4 separate regions of the Homo sapiens genome follow, and all the other regions are reported to be linked to region 2. Evidence: microRNA targets listed by miRTarBase, many of them from high-throughput screens and not tested one by one. Region 2 holds a microRNA gene; each other region holds the end of a gene's coding sequence.

Region 1 (5,490 bases), not on the chromosome of region 2:
TCCCAGGGCATGAGACAGGACCACCATGTATATCCATAGCCAGTAGGGCTTTGGGGAGTCACTTGAGGTTCTATGAGATTATCTCAGGGTTAGGGTTCCCCTAAGTTTGAAAGTTTGACATAAAGAGATATTTAGATTTAAAATTCGAGACTAGGTGTGTTGGCTCACACCTGTAATCCTAGCACTTTGTGAGGCTGCAATGGGAGGATCGCTTGAGGCCAGGAGTTCAACAGGAGCCTGGGCAATATAGTAAGACCCTATCTCTACAAAAAACTTAAAAATTAGCTGGGCATGGGGAGGCTGAGGCAGGAGAATGGCGTGAACCCGGGAGGCGGAGCTTGCAGTGAGCCGAGATCACGCCACTGCACTCCAGCCTGGGTGACAGAGTGAGACTCCGTCTCAAAAAAAAAAAAAAAAAAGAATTAGCTGGGCATGGTGGCACATACCTGTAGTCCTAGCTACTCAGGAGGCTGAGGCAGGAAGATCACTTGAGTCCAGAAGTTCGAGGCTGCAGCAAGCTATGATTGTGCCACTGCACTCCAGCCTGGGCAACAGAGCAAGATTCTGTCTCTAAAAATAAATAAATAGTAAAAAATAAAATAAAATTTGACTTGAAAAGCAAAACAAAAAATCCGGTTCTGCTATCTCTTGTGACAGCCTCTCCATCTGCTTGAAACATACAAATAGAAGCAACTGGGCCAAGTGTGGTGGCTCATGCCTATAAATCCCAGCACTTTGGGAGGCCGAGGTAGGCAGATCACTTGAGGTCAGGAGTTTGAGATCAGCCTGGCCAACATGGTGAAACCCCATCTCTACTAAAAATACAAAAATTAGCCAGGCGTGGTGGTACATGCTACTGGAGAGGCTGAGGCATGAGAATCGCTTGAACCCGAGAGTGGAGGTTGCAGTGAGCTGAGACTCTGTCCCAAAAAAATAAAAAATAAAGTCAAGCTCTAGGTTATTATTTCTCAGGATGGCCACTTAGCATGTGGCGTTGAGAGCTTGGGCATCTTTTAACACAACGTGCAGCTTTAAGGATCTTGAAGATAAATGTCTGTAGTGAAAACTCATTGACTCCATTGAATTCTCCTCGTTCTCTAGTAAAAATACTGTAAATGCCATGAATCGCTACTCAGAGCCTGGCCCCCACCACTACCATGGGCATCACCTGGGAACTTTTTAAAAATGCAGAATCTCAGCTCCCACTTCAGGCTTATTAAATCAAAATCCGCATTTTAATAAGATATCCTAAGTGATTTTGATGCACAAAGTTAGGAAACACATTGAATCACCTGGGGAGCTTGAGCAATACCAACACTTGGGAATTCCCTTCCCTCACTCCTCTCCCACCTCCCACCCCCAGAGATTCTGATTTAATTCATCTGGGCCAGCCTGGGGTTAAGGAGCTTTAAGAACTCCACAACTGATTCTAATATGCAGCCGAGTTTGAGAACCCTTTAGAGTTCTAAGGCTTTCTTCAGCTGGTGCCCATTCAGCTCCAAAGCCAAGCTGTACTCTAAAACCTGCTAGATGCCACTGTCTTGCCTGCCCCCTCTTTGGTGAACAAGGCAGAGTGAGTAGAGGTTGGATGCCCACTTAGGTGACCCTGCGGGGACAGCCAGGCTACCCTAGCCAGCTCACCTCTGCACCTCCTGTCCTGGAGCAAACTAGAGAACAGTAACTCACTCAGCTGCGTTTCCCCTGCAGAGAAACGAGAGAACGTCATGTTTGTGCTGCCTCTGCATGGGGGCCACTTGGGCTTCTTTGAGGGCTCTGTGCTGTTCCCCGAGCCCCTGACATGGATGGATAAGCTGGTGGTGGAGTACGCCAACGCCATTTGCCAATGGGAGCGTAACAAGTTGCAGTGCTCTGACACGGAGCAGGTGGAGGCCGACCTGGAGTGAGGCCTCCGGACTCTGGCACGCTCCAGCAGCCCTCCTCTGGAAGCTGCGTCCCCTCACCCCCTGTTTCAGGTCTCCCATCTCCCTCAGTGACCTGGATCTGACCTCACACCATCAGCAGGGGGCACCCACCATGCACACCTGTCTCGGAGTAGGCAGCTCTTCCTGGGAGCTCCAGGCTATTTTTGTGCTTAGTTACTGGTTTTCTCCATTGCATTGTTAGGCATGGTGACAAGTGACAGAGTTCTTGCCCTCTGTCCAGTTTCAGCATCTGGTTGCTTTTAAGCCAAGTACATCTAGTTTCCCTATTAAAAATGTGTCTGAATAGCGATTTTGCTTTGCCACCAAAAGGCTTTTCCCTGAGAACAGTGAAGGATGTATGTCATTTTGTGGTGGTTGTATGTGTCCTTACATAGACCTTAAAAAGAGCTCACCCTTCCAGGCCAATGCTGAAGACACAGCTCCGCTTGGGAGCCTGAGAACCCAGGCTTCCCAGGCCAGAGTGTGGCTTCTTAAACGGCAAAGGAAATTCCTTTGAGTCACAAGCCAAGTTTTCGCCCTGTCTCCTGAGACCATTTCCCTACGCTTTGCTGCTGCTGAGAGTTACGTGAGGCACTTGTTAAAAATTCAGCCTCCCAGGTCCCTCCCCTCGGAGAGGCTGATTCACTGGGTCTGGGAAGGAGCCTGGGGATTTTAATTTTTCACAAGTGCCCCAGATGATTCTCATCACCAAGCAAATTTTGGAAATGCTGTTCAACAGCGCCCTTAAATTGGAAACATCTTTGCAGCTCGTTTTATTGAAATTCATAATCAGGGGTGTCCTCTAGCTCCCACGGTCTCCAGAGCAGCAAGGCCGGCTATGGAGCTGCCGTCGTGTGACCACAGTGTGATGTCTCAGAAGGGCTCTGGGTGGGCTGAGCATCTGGGCTGTGCCCTGGCTCTGCTTTTCACCCTGGACAAAGTCGCTGTGGACTTCAATTTCTTCACCTCTAAAATGGGGGACTTGGACCAGGTAGATTGCTGAGCTCACTACCAGGTTCAAAGTTCAATGACAAACTCAGTTTACTGAGGTTTGAGAGAACATCCCTCCAGGGGAGCCTGGGAGCTGCTCTCCCAGTCTAAGCATGTAGATATCATCGTTTGCCTTTTGTGTGTGTGTGTCCCTTATTTGATAAAAAGATGTTTTGAGTTGTTTTTTTTTTAAGCACTCACTTGTAATTTTAGTTTTTAAACCCAAGTCCCTCTAACTTTGCCTTTGATACCAAACAATTCAAAAGTTGGATCTGAGTTTGGAGAAAGATATTTCCAACCTAAGTGGGTATTATTTTGAAACCAGATTTTTAATTTAATAGCCTATATTTGTAGTCTGTTGGATAGGTGTTTCCAAAGTGTGTCTTCTCAAGTGAAAACGCAACTCTAGGTTTCAAGTACTCCTTTTCTCCGATCCTGTGGTACTTGAATATCCAAAAACCCTGCACTTTGAACAATCAGCTGTTGCTATCTGGAACTAAACAGAACTATGAGTAAAATTGCCTGGATACTTTAAAAAGATATTTTTCCTCCTTCATCTCCTTTGACTCCAGGACAGACTGGAATATAAGTAGTGGGTCTGCATGGATGTTTCAGGGATCAAAGGAGCCACCTGGGCGCCTGAGTGCCAACCCTCAGGGCCACAGGTGGGTGTGGTTTGGGCACGGGTCCAAGTGACTGTGACGGGACCCGTGGGCATGGGTCCAGGTCTGTAACCTGAAGAAGTTGTTTTCTGACAATCACCAAATCATCCGAATGACATCAAAAGCAGCCCTTATCTCAGAGACTGAGATTTCTGTGGTCTCAACTTCGCTTTGGTATAATTTCTGGCACTCACCAGCCTCTATCATTATGACTTTCCCCCCAGTGTATTATTTCTCTAATAGGTTTCCTTTTCACGTTCTTTTAGCACAGACTGGCACTTTACCCTCTCAGTTTGGAAGTTAGCCCCTCTCCTCTGTTACTTTTCCCTTCACCCAACTACAGCTGTGATCTAGAACATTCATAGTCATATTTCTGCTACTACTACCTTCATTTATCAAGACTTTTTATGAGAATAGGTAAACCAAGCAATAACTTCCTAGGACTGAATCACCACCCCAGAAGAGCGAGAGGCTCCTTTCATATGCCTGAGGCCACACCCCTTAACCTGTTCTGACAAAATAGTGGCTGGCCCATGTACCAGCTCCATTCAGAAATTCAGGAAGAGAAAAGACAGCCCTGTTGTCACACAAACCGGTGTGGGGGAGGGTGGAGCCTGGTCTGCACGGCAGTCCTGGTGGCCCCTGTGGAGGACAGGCAGGGCTGGCAGCATAGCCTTTGTTGCCACACAACCGGAATTTGCTCCCCCAGGACTGTGGGAGCCAGTGTCCCAGCTGAAATCTTTTTAGTGTGTGGCTCTGAATGGCACTCACATTCCATTTTGGCTCACATGAAACTAACTGAAGCCCTTTGTTCAAGCTTCAGGCTCTTAGGCATGGAAATGAGAATGTGACTGTGGCTGTCTTACAGGAAAATTCTTGTTTGTCCCTGAATGAGAGCACAGAGGCATTGAATTCACAGAGCTGCAAACTTGCCTGATAAATGAGGGAGTGGCAGTTTATAGATAGGTCATCTTTTTTCCTTCCTCCAGGTGTCCTTGCCTTTCTTCCCAAAGTCATTCATTTCTGATGAGTATATGAATCCCCCTCTTGCTAGTAAGGTTCTATTTGGGCTAAAACAAGGCTGAATTTTTAAAGAGTATTTGAATATATTTTAGAATCAAATTGAGGCTATAAATTGCATCAATCTGGACAATTCCATTGCAGGAATAATATGTTAAAAACCAATGGGGAGAAGCACCCACATCTCTCCTGTAGCACTCCGTGTCTCATAAGCAATTTGAAGACACTTACAAGTAACTGATTCCAGTCAAATTAGGATTAACTGACTCAAAAAATGGTGTCAAGTTTCTTTAATGTTTTTATGTTAGAAGTGAGTTTAACAGACTTGAAGAAAACTGTTATCTTTTCCTGCTGTGAGTTTACACAAATGATTCCAGAGCAGAATGAAAGCAGAAAGCTGTTGGTTACAATATTCTTTTAACCTCTCTGCAGCATTTTACACTTACTGGGAACCTTATGATTCACCGTAAGAGTGGAAATATACCTGAGTTCGTGTCCTAATGGTCTCTAATTCACATTGGATCGTGGGCAAATCACCTCACCTCTCTGAGCCTGTTCCCTCCTCTTAGACCATCTCTAAGACCACTTCATCTATTTACACATCATTTGCTTGAACATTGCTGAACATCTGCGTGAACTTGGCCTCTCCAGCCCTTGCAGGTGGAAACAGCTGTGTCAAGGCTCAAGGCTCACGCTGAGGGGACTTGGAGGGAGGGGGCTTCTGCATTAAGCTTTCCTGGTGAAGACCCTTGATCTTGTCCAAAGCCCTGTGTCTTTGACTGGCTTCTCTTCAGAGTCCCCGTTGTCATCGTAAGACCCTTGCTGTTTGGAGGGTGGTCTTGTGACTGTGGCAGCTGCTGGCCGCTGGAATGAGGAGCCTATCTCCATCCTCCAGT
Region 2 (3,012 bases):
GTAAAGCCCAGAGGACCACTCTGCCCATGCCCCTGCTGTCTTGCCTCCCCAGGAAACCTGCTCTCCCCAGCCCCTATGGACTGGGACATGCTGATGGAACCACCCTTCTTATTCACGGCTGTGCCTCCTAGTGGGGAGTTGGCCCCTCCAGCAGTGCCTCCCCAGGCTCCACGCTGCCATGTGGTGATCCGGGGCCTGTGTGGGGAGCAGCCCATGTGCTGGGAGGTGGGTGTTGGGCTGGAGACACTGTGGGGACCTGGAGATGGCTCACAGCCTCCCTCACCTCCTGTAAGAGAAGCTGCTTGGGACCAAGCACTCCATCGGCTGACAGCAGCCTCTGTGGTCCGGGACAATGAGCAGCTGGCCCTCCGAGGAGGGGCAGAGACCACAGCTGACCGGGGTGAGTTGCTCATGGGTCCAGTCAGGACCCAAAGGCATGGGCTAAAAACAGCAAAGGTAGAGGTCTGTGTGTTTGATCACTCTCTATACCTCGCTTTGATCACAAAGGATTTGAGGCTCATCACAGACAAGATAAAAAATTAAGCGGGACAATGGGAAAAAGTAAAAATAAAAGGAAACTGAGAATGAGGTTATATTAAAGGTGCATGCTGTGAGGTTATATACTCTTGCAAGGATCAGATCCAGAACTGACAAGCTTCCTAGCAGCCAGCACAGAGGGCAACGTGATCCTGTCATGATTCACAGCACCCACAACGTAAAAACAAATCTTTGTCATTTAGGAAAATACTTAAAGTTCATTTCCTCAGTTGCACTAACCACAGCTGAAGTACTCAATAGTCAAATGTGACTAGTGGCTACCACATTGGATCATGAAGAGAGAGAACATTTCCAAGTTTTATTAGTGCAGAAGCAGGTGGAGGAAAATGTGCCAGCTAATGCTTCCTCTGGGTGTTGTCCAGAGTGCTGAATTTCTGGGCAGCCAGGGGGCTCTTGCTCTGCTATGGGTTGAAGATTCAGCCTGATCACTTCTTGTCAAAGTTGGGGAGTCTGAGCTGGTTCTGGGCCTAGCAAGGCAATCTACTCTGTTAAAGTCGATAGAGGGAGAAGCTGGGGAGAACACTGCAATTTTTTCTATGAGCCCTCTGTAGAGGGTGGGTGGTGGGGGCTCCACAGACTGCTCCTTGGTTCCACAGGCCATGCCCGGAGGTGCTGGCTTCGAGCCCTTCAGACAAGTAAGGTCAGCTCTGCCCCCTCCTGCTTCACTTGCCCTGTAGCTGTGGATGCTACTACTAGGGAGGTCCTGCCTGGGGCCCTGCAGGTGTGCAGCTCAGGTAGGGGCCTCTTCTGGTGACCTCTCAGGTGCAGCTCTCACCTCACTGGCCACTCTCCTGGACAAACCTGACTCCTGTCCCATGTGCCCCTGCAGAGCCCGCTGAGCCCCCAGGAACCCCTCCTGCCTCTCACAGCCATCTAGATGCAGCTCCTCTGCCCACTGTTGTCTACTCTAAAGGTAACACCCAAAGGTAGGGAAAGGGTAGGGGCACTTGGGCTTAGAGACCGCCCCCTGGCACTGATGATCCCCACTGCAGGACTTCAGAGAGGCTCTCCAGCAGGCGCCTGGGACTCGGACCAAAATGGCAACTCCAAGCGTGCTTTGGGGGACCCTGCCACTCCCACGGAAGGTCCTCGCCGCCCACCTCCCCGTCCTCCCTGTCGGCTCAGCATGGGCCGCCGTCACAAACTCTGTAGCCCTGACCCGGGCCAGGCCAACAACAGTGAAGGCAGCGACCATGACTACCTGCCCTTGGTGAGGACTCGGGAGGTGGAGGGTGGTGCCGCCGGGGCCGGGCGCTGTTTCAGCTCGCTTCTCCCCCCACCTCCTCTCTCCTCAGGTGCGGCTGCAGGAGGCACCAGGCTCCTTCCGCCTGGACGCGCCCTTCTGCGCCGCTGTGCGCATCTCGCAGGAGCGCCTCTGCCGTGCCTCGCCCTTTGCCGTGCACCGCGCCAGCCTCAGCCCCACCTCGGCCTCATTGCCCTGGGCACTTCTGGGCCCTGGTGTTGGCCAGGGTGACAGTGCCACGGCCTCCTGCAGCCCGTCCCCCAGCTCGGGCTCTGAGGGGCCAGGCCAGGTGGACAGTGGGCGGGGCTCAGACACCGAGGCCTCCGAGGGGGCGGAAGGGCTGGGCGGCACCGACCTGCGGGGCCGGACCTGGGCCACTGCCGTAGCACTCGCCTGGCTGGAGCACCGATGCGCCGCTGCCTTCGACGAGTGGGAACTGACAGCGGCCAAGGCTGATTGCTGGCTGCGGGCCCAGCACTTGCCTGACGGCCTTGACCTGGCCGCCCTCAAGGCCGCAGCCCGAGGGCTCTTCCTGCTACTGCGCCACTGGGACCAAAACCTGCAGCTACACCTGCTGTGCTACAGCCCAGCGAACGTGTGAAGGCTGCCCCCTGCTGCTTGGGCTGGCGCCCCACCCAACACACTCAAGTCACTGCCGCCCAGGGCTGGCCTCTTGGTGCTGGGAAAGTGTAGGCTGGTGCCAGCCTGTCCCCCACTGCTTCTTACTCCCTCCCTAGAGCCCTCTTGCCCCCACAAAAAGTGCCTGCCTGTGCTCTCTCCCTCTCCTCCCACCCCACTCACACTCCCCTCCATCCTCTGAGCTCCCTGCAACACAGTGGAAGGGTAGAGAGCCACAGTCCCCAAATCCTATGCAATAAAGTGCCTCTTAGGACTGCTTGAGTGAATTCTTTATCTGCTCCATACGTGTCCCTCACAGCCTGGACCAGGCATCGGCTGCCCCCACCTCCATGTAGGTTGCACAGAGTTGGACTTAGCAAGGTTTATTTGGAAGGGCAGAGTCCAACCAACCCCAGGTCCTGAGGGTAGACTCAGGTCCTGAGGGAAAGGGGTGGACTTCAGTGGGCTTTCTTGCTGTGTTGGGTGCTCTTGGGGAAAGGCTGCGGGCCCAGCCAGAGCTGCAGCAGGATGACGGCATGGCATATGTGCAGGGCAGCAGAGCTGCAGGATGTGGAAGGGTATGTGTTCCAGGA
Region 3 (3,305 bases), not on the chromosome of region 2:
CTGTCCCTGTGGACCCGCCATCCACCGTCCTGCCCACGCCGCCTCAGCCTGCCACCTCCCACCTAGAGGAGACCATGGGCCCTGCCCCACCCACTCCAGGATGTTAGGGTCCCCTCAGCCAAAAAGGCAGCTGCCTGTGGCTCCTGTACCAACCGCCCAGCCACGCTCCATCGCCGCCCAAAGGGAGGTGCCAAGGCCAGGAACCCAAGCCACCCCGGCTCCCCTCGCCTGCCCAGGGGCCGTGGTGACTCACGGGCAGGGAGGCGACATCAGGCTGGTTCTGCCACTGAGCCCCTGAGGAATCTGACCCTCCCCAAAAGAAGCAGTGAAATGGACCAAAGGACTTAAGAATTTGGGGGGAAGTGAGGGAAAAACGTTAGGTGCTAACCACCTGCCCAGAAGAGTGGATCTCACAGCCCAGGAACATTCCCAAGCAGGAAAACCGTCCGTCCGAGGAACGTCCATCCTGGCTCTCTGCGGCTGGTGGGAAAACACACCCTGCCCTGAGGGGCTGTCCAGGCCTTCTCCCCCACACCCTCAGGCCGAGATCCGTGAGAGACCCACTTTGCTCCAACAACTTGAAACAAGTCACTTTACCCTCCTTAGGACCCATTTTGGGGGGGAAAAACCAACACATTCCAGAGCTTTCCAAGTCCTTTGAACTTCAGGTTCACATTCAGGGATCACACAGTTCTGCCTGTTCTCAGGGCACAGCAACTGCCAATCCCGCTGAAGAGGCCTCCCTGGGCACAGCACAGGCTGCACGGTGCACGCATTTCCCTGAAGGCAGCCCCTTCTTCGGAAGCAGCTGTTCCAGGCCTCGGAACAGGGCCTGGGTATCCGCGTGGTGGGCTGGCAGCTGACGGCCTGCTCAGTGGAGCCAGGAGCTAACTCAGACCCCAAAGCAAGCAGGGGGCCAGTGGCGGGGCCCAGCGCCCAGCAGGACACCCATGCAAGAGGCTGAGCCCCCCAACATCCAAGGACAGGAGAGACATGGAGTGGCGCTGGACAGTCACGACAAGGACTTGCCTCCAGCACTGGACACACCTGTGTTAAGACCAGCCCTCTGCTTCCCAGTCCCGCCAGCCTGGGGCATCCTCCATGGGCTCAGCACTGAGAGGTCTTGGGTCTGCCACGTTCTCTAGCTCTCCAGTCACCCACTCATCCAGGGTAGGAGGGGTTCTCCCTGCCCCCCGCCGTGGCCTTGGGATCTCACCCTCTCCATGTCCTGGGGACAGCCTCGCCCTCAGCCGGACTGCATCCCTCCTGGGCCTGAGCCTCGGGACTCAGTGGACACCAAAGTCAAGACCAGCACCCACCACGGGCCCTGCCAGCCTCTGCCTTCCCCAGCTGGCCTGGGTTCTGGCCTGGGTGAGGATCTGGAAGCTGTTGGCAGGACTCAACCAAGCACTGCTCTCTAGCTCCAGGGCACTAAGCCACAGGAGGCAGCGCCCTGCAGCCTCCCGTCCACACTGCCAGCAATGCCCCTGGCCCAGTGAGCCCAGACGCTCCTCCACCCCTTCCAGACCAAGCTCAACGCCTCCAAGACCAGCAGGCCAAGGCCAAGCCCTGCCCCAGATCCTCATAGGCAGAGAAGCCCTTCTGACATTTCCCCCAGGAGGCAGGGGGTGGTCTGAGTCTCCTCACAGCAGAGAGACCCACCGGAGCCCCCTCAACTTTGCAGATGCCCACCTGGAAAATGGGCTGAGCTGCACCAGACCCTCACACACCACAGCACTGCAAGCTGATGGAATGTTCCAGTTATGATGGACACTTCGTGATCTGCAATGACTGTTGATTCAGCACATTAGCATCTGACACAGCCAACCTGAATACTTCCTGCCCCAGGCGGTCAGGGTTATGGCACGATGCAGGTGGCACTCAGGGGCTAACTTCAGGCTGATGAGTGTGTGGGGTATGGGGCAGCAGAGGCAGCCAGCCAGCAAAGAGGGGCCACTGAGCACCAGGGCCCTGGTGGAGGCTGCTGTGGGACGGTCAGGCCACCACCGCAAAGAGGCAGCCGGAGCTTCTGCACAGGATGTCCCTGGCCCCAGGTCCTGCAGCACCTTAGTCCATACTACCAGCCCCACCCACCTTCCTTCCTCTTCCCTCTTCTAGGACACAGGCTGTGGACCCCTTCAGGTGCACTATAATGGGGCTGGAGGGGCCCCCACATCTCTCAGCCCCACTAATGCAGAATCCCACTACCCGTGAGCTAGAAGGTGCTCAGAGGCCAGGGGTCTCTACTGCCCATGCCGGGCGGCCTTCCAGTCATTGCACAGCAAAGCCATGTGCAGGGCGTCCCCCTCAACCCTGCCCTGAACATGCCCCAGGGCACTGAGGGGCGAAGCCAGTGCTTGGGCTCTGCTGCTGGGAGTCTCTGGTCTGTGTCTGTGTGTGCCTGTAAGTGTGAAATAAACCTCTCTGATGGCAGCAAGCCTCTCACTTGTTGTAGGACTGCAAGACACTGGACCGAAAGCCTCCAACACAAACCCTAGCTGCCAACCTGCTCATTTCTTAGGTTTCACTGGTGAGAGCAGCTTTAACACACAGGCCCAAGGCACTACGGTGCACCTCACAGGCCAGTAAGAAACAGGCCCTTTAACTGGAGATTTTAAAGGTTACAGGTTATAGCTTTAACTCCTTCTGAGACAGCATCCATTTCTCAAGAGGCCTGAGCAGGAAGCTCCGGGAGAACCAAGCATGCGGAGCTGCTCAGGGACGTCCACTGGGAAGCCTGGTGTCCACTCCCACCTGCTTGGGCCCTGCAACTGGGGTCCCTGGAGCTGGCCAGGCTGTGGGGCGCCAGAGAGCACAGCACCCTAGTGACCAGCATGGAGCTTCTGGACCGGGTGAGCTGTCTTGAGCCTCAACCACCCAGGTCAGGAGGTCTGGGAGGCCACATGCCTCCGGCCCTCCCTACCCGGACAAGTTCAGGGCAAAGTCTCAGCCGGGGGGTGGCCCCGCAGGACGTCGAGGTCCAGCATCACGGAACCCAGCAGCCCACGGCGGAAAGTCTGCAGGAAGTCACGGGCTGCCGCAGGATAGTTAGGCTGAATAATGTTCACGTTACCTGGGGGACGGGAGGGTTCAGTGAGGAAGGAGCCTTCACAGCAGGACAGGCCCAGCCCTTACCCACCTGAGGGACCAGCCCTAAGAGGCTCCATGATGGCATCAGGGAAGCCCAGGGAACGGGATCACACTCAGAAAGAAAACAGCTTGAGCTACGCTGCCCGGAGCCTCCAAGGCCAGGCATGTGAGGCCTGCAGGTGTCCACCTAGCACTGCCCAATACGCGGCAGGGCT
Region 4 (3,000 bases), not on the chromosome of region 2:
CTCTTAGGGACGGAAAACTAAGATATTCAAAGCTACTTGGCCTACATTACAGGATGGCAAATTTTTGTACGTTTATAACCAGTCATTCTGTGGTCATGTCTTAGCCATTTTGATTCTAGTAGCATTGTTCCTGCTGCCCTGTCTCTTGCTACTTTTAATCTGCTATCCAATTTATGAAACCAGATAACTATCTTTATGAAATTAGCAACCTTAACACATATTCTAAGATGACAAACACTAGCCTATACAATCTATGGAACAAAGTGCATTCACTACATGTCTCATATCTTGATGCCTTTTTAAACTTAAAAGAATTCTTGATCCTTTTTTGATAGGTGGGAATGCCCAAAGTTTAATTTTAACCTAAGTGGGAAAATTTCCACATTATAAAGAGATAAAGGTAGAGCTATGAGAGCAGTATGAAATAGAGAAGTAGTAAAAGCACAGGAAGTAAACAGAAGGAAACGAGATGAGAATAAGAAGACAAAGTTGAACGAGTAAGAGAGACTGAGAAGAAAACAAGAGGAAATGGGTAGAACTAACTAGAGCGAGACAAGAAAAATAAGACACAGGCTCCAAGAGAAGTGTTAGGGCAGAATGCCTAGTGCTCTTTTTCACAGCTTGGTGGTTATCTGGGACCTGAGCATAAGTTACCTCTCCCATCACTCTTCTTTGAAATAATCTATCAGTTTAGAAAGTCTCTTTTGCACTGAGAAATAGTGGCATGGTTTTATTTTAAAACTTCAAAGTTAATTTTTTGGCCGGGCTCAGCGGCTCACGCCTGTAACGCCAGCACTTGGGGAAGCCGAGGTGGTCGGATCGCTTGAGGTCAGGAGTTTGAGACCAGGCTGGGCAGCCTGGCGAAACGCTGTCTCTACTAAAAATACAAAAAAATTAGCTGGGCGTGGTGGTGTATGTCTGTAATCCCAGCTACTCAGGAGGCTGAGGTGGAAGAATTGCTCAAACCCAGGAGGCGGGAGTTGGAGTGAGCCGAGATGATCACACCATTGCACTCCAGCTCAGGCGACAGAGTCAAACTCCATCTCAAAACAAACAAACAAACAACAACAACAACAAAAAAATCCCAGAACAAACAAAAAAACTTCAAAGTTTATTTTTGAAGCAAAAATACTTACTGTTTCATAGTAGTCTATATTTTCTACAGAGTATGAAACAATGATCTAGGTTTTAGAGGATCTGTAAACTAGCTCTTGCCTAAAGTCCCTGACATGTACAATCTGTTAGATTGCTGGATACTTTTTGTGGGGGAGGTAGTTTGAGGTTTTCTCCAGTGTGCTAATGTTACAGTTATAACTGACTTACGAAATAACTGCCTTAACTCTTCTTTTCTTTTACCCTAAATGAAATCTTCTTTGTGGTCTGGTTTGACCCTATATGTAGTCTCATTTGACCCTATATGTAGTCTCATTTGACCCTATATATGTAGTGGCGGTAGGAACTAAAACCCTCAGGAAAAGGTGAGTTACTAATATTTGTAGTTTATCTATCAAACAATCTATCAAATTCCAGACTTTCAGTTCAAAATGAGACAGCCACGAAACTGACCAAATGAAACTGCACTTGATATTTTTTTCTGTTCCACACCCCGCACTCATCTGCCTTTACTTACTACCTTTAATCTGTTGATAAAATTGGGAAAAAAACTACATACTGCTGAAAGCAGATTATAAAAATGAAGTTACCAGCTGGGCGAGGTGGCTCATGCCTGTAATCCTAGCACTTTGGGAGGCTGAGGCGGGTGGATCACCTGAGGTTAGGAGTTCGAGACCAGCCTGGCCAACATCGTGAAATCCCATCTCTACTAAAAATACAAAAATTAGCCGGGCATGGTGGTGCACACCTGTAATCCCAGCTAGTCTACTCGGGAGGCTGAGGCAGGAGAATTGCTGGAACCTGGGAAGCAGAGACTGCAGTTAGCTGAGATCGTGCCACTGCACTCCAGCCTGGGCAACAGAGCGAGACTCTGTCTTGAGGAAAAAAAAAAAAAATCACAAGGAACTGAATTATGTTTAGTCCATGAAAAGGAAGATATAAAGAACAGTCTTTGAACAAGTAAAATTCCACCAGAGAGAAGGGCATTCTGGCTCTAACATATATAATAACTTCCCATTCATTAATAGATTCTAGAGGGTGTTAACTGATGTGCTTGCAAGTGGGGAAGAAGCATCATATCATAAACTTGCATTATTGATCCAAATACAAGTGATAACTTTTTCATGTATAAAGGCTTCATGACAAAAAGCTAGATAATTGGCAGAAAACTGGTTGATGATATAGTCAGCATTTCTGAATAAAGAAATGAAGAACATGAGTGGTAACAAGAGCGTTTTCTGACGGTTGAGTCATTGTACTATTTCTTCTTGGATCAGGAAGATACTCATGTAAGAGAGTACACATGATGACTCCGAACAGAAGAACCAAAGTCACAAGATACTGCCACACTTTGAAGAAAATGGCAATTTGCTATAAAATGACACTGGCTCTCTAAGTCTGATAATGTAACAGAAAGACAAACTGTTATATTTCAAATTACATGTGACCTTTACAATGGCCACTGCTCACTAGAGAATTCTGTTCAAAGATTCTAACCCAGTTTAAGATGAATCTTAAGGTTATTTCCTTGCTGTTTCTTTTCAAACCCGTACTTACCTGGCTGATGTTTACATATGACCCATAGGGTTGGTAGTTTCACTAAGCCCAGGATGGGTTCCTGGCAGTGTGGTTGGCGGCTCTGCCGATACGGCAGAAACTTTTTCTTCTTCCCTTCTCTTAAGGCAGGCTGCTTTGGGGTTAAGGTTCCTCTCTAAAACAGGGGGAAAGAATTTTTATCACTATGGTTTTAAGTTATGAATTAGGTCTCAAGCTGAACAAATTGCTGTTGTTTTGTGTAACTTCATTCCCATACTAAGTACCATCACATAGAAGAAACAATGTGCTCACATAAAACCTCAGCATTGAACTGAGCCTCCAGATTTATAC

Evidence for each region. Region 2 holds the annotated microRNA hsa-miR-1224-3p (CCCCACCUCCUCUCUCCUCAG, at 1,833-1,853, shown strand). A microRNA usually pairs through its seed, bases 2 to 8, with sites in the 3' UTR of a target mRNA and lowers its output. Matches are read on the target gene's strand: a 7mer-m8 pairs with bases 2 to 8, a 7mer-A1 pairs with bases 2 to 7 and ends in A, and an 8mer does both.
Region 1: miRTarBase lists ABHD2 as a target of hsa-miR-1224-3p. Seed matches in the 3' UTR shown: 7mer-m8 at 3,576-3,582.
Region 3: the mRNA of MTG1 is a reported target of hsa-miR-1224-3p. Seed matches in the 3' UTR shown: 8mer at 2,749-2,756, 7mer-m8 at 2,090-2,096 and 7mer-m8 at 1,688-1,694.
Region 4: miRTarBase lists TCF12 as a target of hsa-miR-1224-3p. The part of its 3' UTR that is shown has no 7-base or 8-base seed match.

The regions. Positions count from the first base shown.
Region 1 is chr15:89,193,520-89,199,009 of GRCh38, forward strand. ABHD2 (abhydrolase domain containing 2, acylglycerol lipase) reads left to right here. Exons shown (of 11, transcript NM_152924.5): 11 at 1,708-5,490. The coding sequence ends at 1,904. It also overlaps the pseudogene LOC124903574. Among named protein-coding and RNA genes, the nearest start is that of RLBP1, 25 kb to the right of the region's middle. RefSeq lists enhancers at 1,352-1,852, 1,853-2,353 and a silencer at 4,119-4,413.
Region 2 is chr3:184,239,637-184,242,648 of GRCh38, forward strand. MIR1224 (microRNA 1224) reads left to right here and starts at 1,769; the gene lies at 1,769-1,853. VWA5B2 (von Willebrand factor A domain containing 5B2) reads left to right here. Exons shown (of 20, transcript NM_001390846.1): 16 at 53-400; 17 at 1,155-1,292; 18 at 1,388-1,471; 19 at 1,551-1,768; 20 at 1,854-2,693. The coding sequence ends at 2,402. ALG3 (ALG3 alpha-1,3- mannosyltransferase) reads right to left here. Exons shown (of 9, transcript NM_005787.6): 9 at 2,665-3,012. The coding sequence ends at 2,878. RefSeq lists a silencer at 2,285-2,579.
Region 3 is chr10:133,419,794-133,423,098 of GRCh38, reverse strand. It overlaps MTG1 (mitochondrial ribosome associated GTPase 1), which reads right to left. Exons shown (of 11, transcript NM_138384.4): 11 at 579-3,073. The coding sequence ends at 2,934. It overlaps SPRN (shadow of prion protein), which reads left to right. Exons shown (of 2, transcript NM_001391974.1): 2 at 1-2,433. Among named protein-coding and RNA genes, the nearest start is that of SPRN, 3.2 kb to the left of the region's middle. RefSeq lists an enhancer at 1-96.
Region 4 is chr15:57,282,269-57,285,268 of GRCh38, reverse strand. TCF12 (transcription factor 12) reads right to left here. Exons shown (of 21, transcript NM_207037.2): 20 at 2,671-2,824. The coding sequence ends at 2,682. Among named protein-coding and RNA genes, the nearest start is that of SNORD13D, 5.1 kb to the right of the region's middle. RefSeq lists an enhancer at 431-490.